2 linked regions of the Homo sapiens genome follow. The protein of the gene in region 1 purifies or fractionates together with the protein of each later gene. This does not show direct contact. Each region holds a gene or a part of one and is shown in the gene's direction. Other genes may lie near its edges.

Region 1 (3,500 bases):
TCACAAACATATGTAACATCATTGGCTGCTCTTAATAAATCATAAAACTAATTTTTTTCATCCTCATTTACTCATTATCCAAAGAATTTGGTTGAAAATTTTCTATTAAATTTCTAATTTATTGAGTGCCAAAAGTTGTCTTAGGAATCATTACAAGATTTTGCATTTTAATGTTTTTAACAAGTACAATATGTTCAAAATCCACTCATTTTATTATTGGGAAGTTTTGGGGTTTTTTTGTGGGGGGTGGACAGAGTCTCGCTCAGTCCCCCAGGCTGGAGTGCAGTGGTGTGATCTCGGCTCACTTCAACCTCTGTCTCCCAGGTTCAAGCGATTCTCATGTCTCAGCCTCCCCCAAGTAGTTGGGATTACAGGTGCCCACCACCACGCCTGGCTAATTTTTGTATTTTTAGTAGAGACCGGGTGTTACCATGTTGACCAGGCTAGTCTCAAACTCCTGACCTCAGGTAATCTATCCGCCTCGGCCTCCCAAAGTGCTGGGATTACAGGTGTGAGCCACCACACCCAGCCTTTTGGGAAGATTTTTAACACGTCAGAAAATTCTGTTTCTTTGTTTAAGTACAGATGTGAGAACTGTATAGGTGACACACTTGAACTGATGGTGACAACAAAGAAACATTTCCAGGTGCCTTCTTTAAAAATGCTATCTCAGCCTGTAATCCCAGCACTTTGGGAGGCTGAGGCGGGTGGATCACAAGGTCAGGAGATCGAGACCATCCTGGCAAACACAGTGAAACCCGTCTCTACTAAAAATACAAAAAAATTAGCCAGGAGTGGTGGCAGGCGTCTGTAGTCCCAGCTACTCGGGAGGCTGAGGCAGGAGAATGGCATGCACCCGGGGGGCGGAGCTTGCAGTGAGCAGAGATCCCGCCACTGCACTCCAGCCTGGGTGACAGAGCAAGACTCTGTCTCAAAAAAAAAAAAAAAAAAAAAATGGTATCTCAGTATCATGAAGAGTAGTTACTTTATTGGTCGTTGTTAAAATGTCACCGTTGCCATTACCAATTAAAATGTTTTCCGGCTGGGCGCGGTGACTCACACCTGTAATCCCAGCACTTTGGGAGGCCAAGGTGGGTGGATCATCTGAGGTCAGGAGTTCGAGACCAGCCTGGCCAACATGATGAAACCCCATCTCTACTAAAAATACAAAAATTAGCTGGGCATGGTGGCACGTGCCTGTAGTCCCAGCTACTCAGGAGTCTGAGGCAGGAGAATCGCTTGAACCCAGGAGGTGGAGGTTGCAGTGAGCTGAGATGGCGCCACTGCACTCCAGCCTGGGTGACAGAGCAAGACTCTGTCTCCAAAAAATAAAAATAATAAAATAAAAAGTTTTGGCTCATTTCTCATTCTGATCTCAATCATTTTCACTCCATAACTTGATTGCCAGCAAGCTCATAATTAGGAGGAAGAGTAGCAGCCTGCCGTTTTCTTGGTCACTTGCACGTATAATAAGATCTTCAGCCTCTCTTTCTTTGAGGGAATCTTTTTGGAACAATGTATCCATATTGTGAGGATTGATTTAATAAGATGGGATGGTATAATCCACAAGTCCACATAGGCAGCCACTCCCATACTGCAGGAGGTCACATTGCGCTGATGGAACCTGTGGTCCCCATCAGGGCTTCCCTGGGGGCACTCCCACTCTTTCTTCACGATGCGTCTCTTAGACCCGAGACCATCTGTCATGGGAGCTGAATGAAGGCTCCAAGACAATCTCTACAGTAAATATTTGTACATTTCTTAATTTTTAATTAGAAATGAATATTAATGTAGTTACATTGTTTTTCCACCTTTCTACTGTGCTTTGGTGATCTTGGCTCTAACTAATAGTATTGGGTCATTTAATTTAATTTTATTTATTTATTTATTTTTTGAGACAGAGTCTCGCTCCTGCTGCACAGGCTGGAGTGCAATGATGCAGTCTCGGCTCACTGCAACCTCCGCCTCCTGGGTTCAAGCGATTCTCCTGCCTCAGCCTCCCAAGTAGCTGGGATTACTGGTGCCCACCACCACACCCAGCTAATTTTTGTATTTTTGGTAGAGACGGGGTTTCGTTATGTTGGCCAGGCTGGTCTCAAACTCCTGATCTCAGGTGATCCACCAGCCTTGGCCTCCCAAAGTGCTGGGATTACAGGTGTGAGCCACTGTGCCTGGCCTGGTATTGGGTCATTTTAGAGAACAGGGCATAGCAACAGCAAGCCAGGGAGCTGATGAAAGCAGAATGATACTTCGGCATCACCCCAGTGTCTTTGCTGCTCTCTTCGTAGACGTACCGTGAGCCCGTGTCAGACTACCAGGTCCTGCGGGAGAAGGCTGCATCCCAGAGGCGCGATGTGGAGCGGGCACTTACCCGTTTCATGGCCAAGACAGGCGAGACTCAGAGTCTTTTCAAAGATGACGTCAGCACATTTCCATGTGAGAGTTGCCCCACTGTGTGGACCCTGTCTTATTTGAAACACTCACATTATCTTTTCTTTCTCTCAGCATGGTAGGAAGAAACAAATAAGCTTTTGTCCTTCCCTTGGGTACAGCTTGCCTCTCAGATTTCTGGCTCCCTTCCCCAGGTCTTAAGAGTCTGTCCTTAACTGACGACTCCAAAACAGTAATGGTCTCTGTTGGGACTGGCTGCTTGAGGTCCATAGAGTTACCTTGAGGGTAGCCTAGGCCTAGGCATCAGAGACACTTGGTGGCAGCCCAGGTAGTAGAAGAACATTGGCATCAGGGGCCAGTTGCCCATCGTGATGTTCCCTCGTAGGTCCCACCTCATTTAACTTGGCATCTCAGCACTATTTGGCCATGTTGACCAAGCTACTTCATTTCCAAAGACCTCAGTTTTTACAAATGTGAGTGAGGGAGGTTGGTTTGGGTGATTCATTCATTCAGCAAGCTCCTGTGGAACGCCCGCTGTGTGCCTGGCTCTGGAATAACAGCAGCTGCCGGTTGTTAAGTGCCAGATACTGTGCTCATCATTTCCCATACATTATCTCATTAAATCCTCTTGTGAGCCTCTGAGTTGGGAACTGATATATCACTACCTTCATAGGAACCCTTCAATGAGGCACAAGAGAAGAGAAATGAAGTCACTTCCTCAAGGAACATGGCTAGTAGACATCATTCAAACCTAGCTCTTACTGCAGGACCCCACATCTGACCCACAGCAAAAATAATTCTGGAGTTTTTGTGGGTTTTTTTGAGACAGAGTCTTGCTTTGTCATCCAGCCTGGAATACAGTGGCGCAATCTCTGCTCACTGCAACCTCCGCCTCCCGGGTTCCAGCGATTCTTCTGCTTCAGCAAGTAGCTGGGACTACAGGCAGGAGCCACCACACCCAGCTAATTTTTTGTATTTTTAGTAGAGACGGGGTTTCACCCAGTTGGCCAGGTTGGTCTTGAACTCCTGAGCTCAAGTGATCTGCCTGCCTCAGCCTCCCAAAGTGCTGGGATTATAGGCATGAGCCACCACACCCAGCCAATTCTAGA
Region 2 (3,500 bases), on another chromosome or scaffold:
ATTTATGGTATTTGTCCATTACCTGAATGTAAACTCCATAAAGGCAGAGGCCTTGTTCATCTTACTCTTAGCTGTATCCCCAGGCATTAGCATGCCGCCTGGCATTTGGAAGATAGTAAATATTTGATGCTTCTGTATCTTTGTTCCTGTTTTTTGCCAATGATTGGAATGCTGTCTTGCACACATAGTTATAGTTATTGAACTACTTATCCTTTAAGTCTTAGCTCAGATGTCATCTGTGATACCAGTTTTAATCTCCTAGACAAAAGTTTTTTGCTCTTGCTCTTGTGTGCTTCTAAAGCCCATGATACATGCACTATTTGTAGAGTAAATCCCATGTTAGGTATTTAGAATATTATTTGATTATTTGAATATAATTGATGTCACTGTCTTCTATTAGGCTGAATTGCTATGTCAAGGACCAGCTGGCTCTTTTGTGTGCTCAGTATCTACCAACCAACCTATTATAGTAGATATAGTGAATTCTCAGTAAATGTTGAATTGAGTAGAAGTTGTCCTAATCGGCCGGGCGCGGTGGCTCACGCCTGTAATCCCAGCACTTTGGGAGGCCGAGGCGGGCGATTCACGAGGTCAGGAGATCGAGACCATCCTGGCTAACACAGTGAAACCCCATCTCTACTAAAAATACAAAAAATTAGCCGGGCGTGGTGGTGGGCACCAGTAGTCCCAGCTATGCGGGAGGCTGAGGCAGGAGAATGGCGTGAACCCTGGGAGGCGGAGCCTGCAGTGAGCCAAGATCGCGCCACTGCACTCCAGCCTGGGCAACAGCGAGACTCCGTCTCAAAAAAAAAAAAAAAAAAAAAGAAGTTGTCCTAATCAACGGAAATAACCAACCACAGACCAGTTTTCCCAAATCACACTTTAAAAATCATAAAGGTACTTTCCAAATTATAATCTTACTTTATGTGTTTTCTATTAACATACGGTCATTATTCTAAGGGCAGGAATTTGAGAGCTGTGGAGCACAAGGGGCATTTCCTCAGATTCTATTTTGCTTTCTTGCTGGGCACTGAGTAGCCATCTTGTCTGAGGGAAGTATTTCCAGTTTGAAATGCATATCTCTGTTGTTCATTACTAACCAACATCCCTTCTGGCCCTATTACTTCCCTCTAGCTTATCCAACTAATTTCATATGTTTATAGAAAAGCTCCAAGTTGAGGGGGGAACCTTATGGAAATTAACACAGTATACATGAAATACATTACTAATTCAGCTGTATTGCTAATGAAAATACATCAAAGAACTTTTGTAGCCAACATTAGGAACCCAGTCACCATTTGTAATAGTGAAAGTCATTCCCCATTCTAAATAGCTGACTTACAAATAGGCTTTTGGAACATATCCCATTTGTAAATTGGGGATTCCTTTGGCAAAATGTTTATTTTGATACTGAAAACCTTTTTATTAATGGTGTTAAACCTAATTGATGGTATGGATTACGAAGAGAAAGGGAGAGAAGAATCTAGGAGTTAAGGTTTTGTTTTTGTTTTCTTTCAGAAATGGCTTAATTTCCACAAAGTACAGTTTTAGGGTTGACAGATTTTTTTTTTTAAATTTATTTCGGAAAAAAATCAAACCTAGAGAAAAGTTACAAGAATAGTACAATGAACTCCCATTTATATCTGCCGCAGATTCACCAGTTGTTACCATGTACCACATTTGCTTTGTCGTTCTTGCTCTCTTTTTATATTTGCAGAGTGGGTACAAAGTCTGGAAACAGAGATTATTATTTTATTTACAGATTGAAACTCCTTGATTACATCTTCTGCCTAGAGCAGCTATTACCAGCCTTTTTGGCACCAGGGACCAGTTTCGTGGAAGACAATTTTTCCATGAATGGTGGGGGGAGGGGATGGTTTCAAAATGATTCAAGCACATTACATTTATTGTACACTTTATTTTCCATTATTATTACATTGTAATATGTGATGAAATACTTATACAACTCACCATAATGTAGAATCAGTGGGAGCCCAGAGCTTGTTTTCCTGCTACTAGAGGGTCCCATCTTGGGGTGATGGGAGACAGTGACTGATGATCTCATCAGGCATTAGATTCTCATAAGGAGTGCACAACCTAGATCCTTTGCATGTGTGGTTCACAGTGGGGTTTGTGCTTCTGTGATAATTAAGTGTTGCCGTTGATCTGACAGGAGGTGGAGCTCAGGTGGTAATGCAAGCGACGGGGAGCGGCTGTAAATACAGATGAAGGTTCACTCACTGGCATGCCGCTCATCTCTTGCTGTGTGGCCCCATTCCTAACAGGCCATGGACTGGTACTGATCTATGGCCCCGGGGTGGGGACCTCTGGTCTAGAATATGTCAAAGATGCAAGTTTATTTAGTTAAAGTCAGTGGCAAAACATCACAGGTATGATTAAATTCAGGTTATATACAGGGATAGATGGAAATGCTATGTTAATGCACTGTGTACATTTCTAACAAGGAAACCTGACATGTTATTATCATTAACATATCAGGCATTGTTATATAATATCAAGAATCCACTGTGTAGATCTTTTTCCTCATCTCCTTTTTTTCTCTTTTTTGTTCTCTTCCTATTAAAATTATTTTTATTGTTGAACCATTTGAGAGGAGGTTGCACACATCAAGTTCCCTTACCCCTAAATACTTCAACTGATATCTCCTAATAAGGGCATATTCTTACATTAGTATGGGGGATTCAAGAAATTTAATATTGATCTTATTGTTTAATGTACAGTTCATGTTGAAATTTTTCCCATAGTGTCAATAATATCCTTTAATATTTTTCCCATTCCAATATTATACAATGCATTTTAATTATATCCCTTGTATTGTTTAATCTGAAACAGTTCTTCAGCCTTTTTAATTTTTGGGTTTTGTAGAGTACAGACCCTTTGTTTTGTAGGATGTCCATCAGTTTGGATTTGTCCAGGTGCTTCTTTGTAATTAGATTCAGGTTTTGCATTTTTGGCAAAAATCCCATGTAAGTGATGGTATATCCTCAGTGCATCACATCATGAGGCAGTACGGTGTCATTTTGACCATGTTGTTGATGTTTATTTGGACCACTTAGTTAAGGTTTTACCTGCTAGTTTTCTCTATTACAAAAGGTATCATAGTCCCCTTTGTTATTACTGAATAATCTGTTGGAGACACTTGGAGACTGAAAATTTCCTCCTCCAAACGCTTACAGAATGGTTTTAGCATTCATTGATTACTCTTGCCTGAATCACTTACTACACAGAATTGCAAAATAGTGTTTTTCTAACCATCGTTCCCTCTCCATTTATTAGTGGGCATTCTAGTCTGTTTTAAAGAAGACCTTGTCCTATTCATTTTGATATCAATATGATATAATGGATTCTTTTTTATTAAGTAGGTTGTTTTCTATTACCTGCCAGTATTCATTTTGATGTTCCAAATTAACCCACATTTGGTTAGTGGAAACTTCTTCACATTAACTCATTGGTTGTTTTAACATGCCCCCATCATTTGT

The links. Proteins that work in one complex are often made in the same cells at the same time.
Region 2: the proteins of TAF8 (region 1) and MEF2A purify together in Homo sapiens (affinity purification with western blotting, with the first as the bait; one study listed by BioGRID). This does not show direct contact.

The regions. Positions count from the first base shown.
Region 1 is NC_000006.12:42,064,024-42,067,523, forward strand, and holds part of TAF8 (transcription initiation factor TFIID subunit 8), read left to right. Parts: intron 1-2,288; coding exon 2,289-2,436; intron 2,437-3,500. UniProt on the Homo sapiens protein: The TFIID basal transcription factor complex plays a major role in the initiation of RNA polymerase II (Pol II)-dependent transcription.
Region 2 is NC_000015.10:99,572,484-99,575,983, forward strand, and holds part of MEF2A (myocyte-specific enhancer factor 2A), read left to right. Parts: intron 1-3,500. UniProt on the Homo sapiens protein: Transcriptional activator which binds specifically to the MEF2 element, 5'-YTA[AT](4)TAR-3', found in numerous muscle-specific genes. Also involved in the activation of numerous growth factor- and stress-induced genes.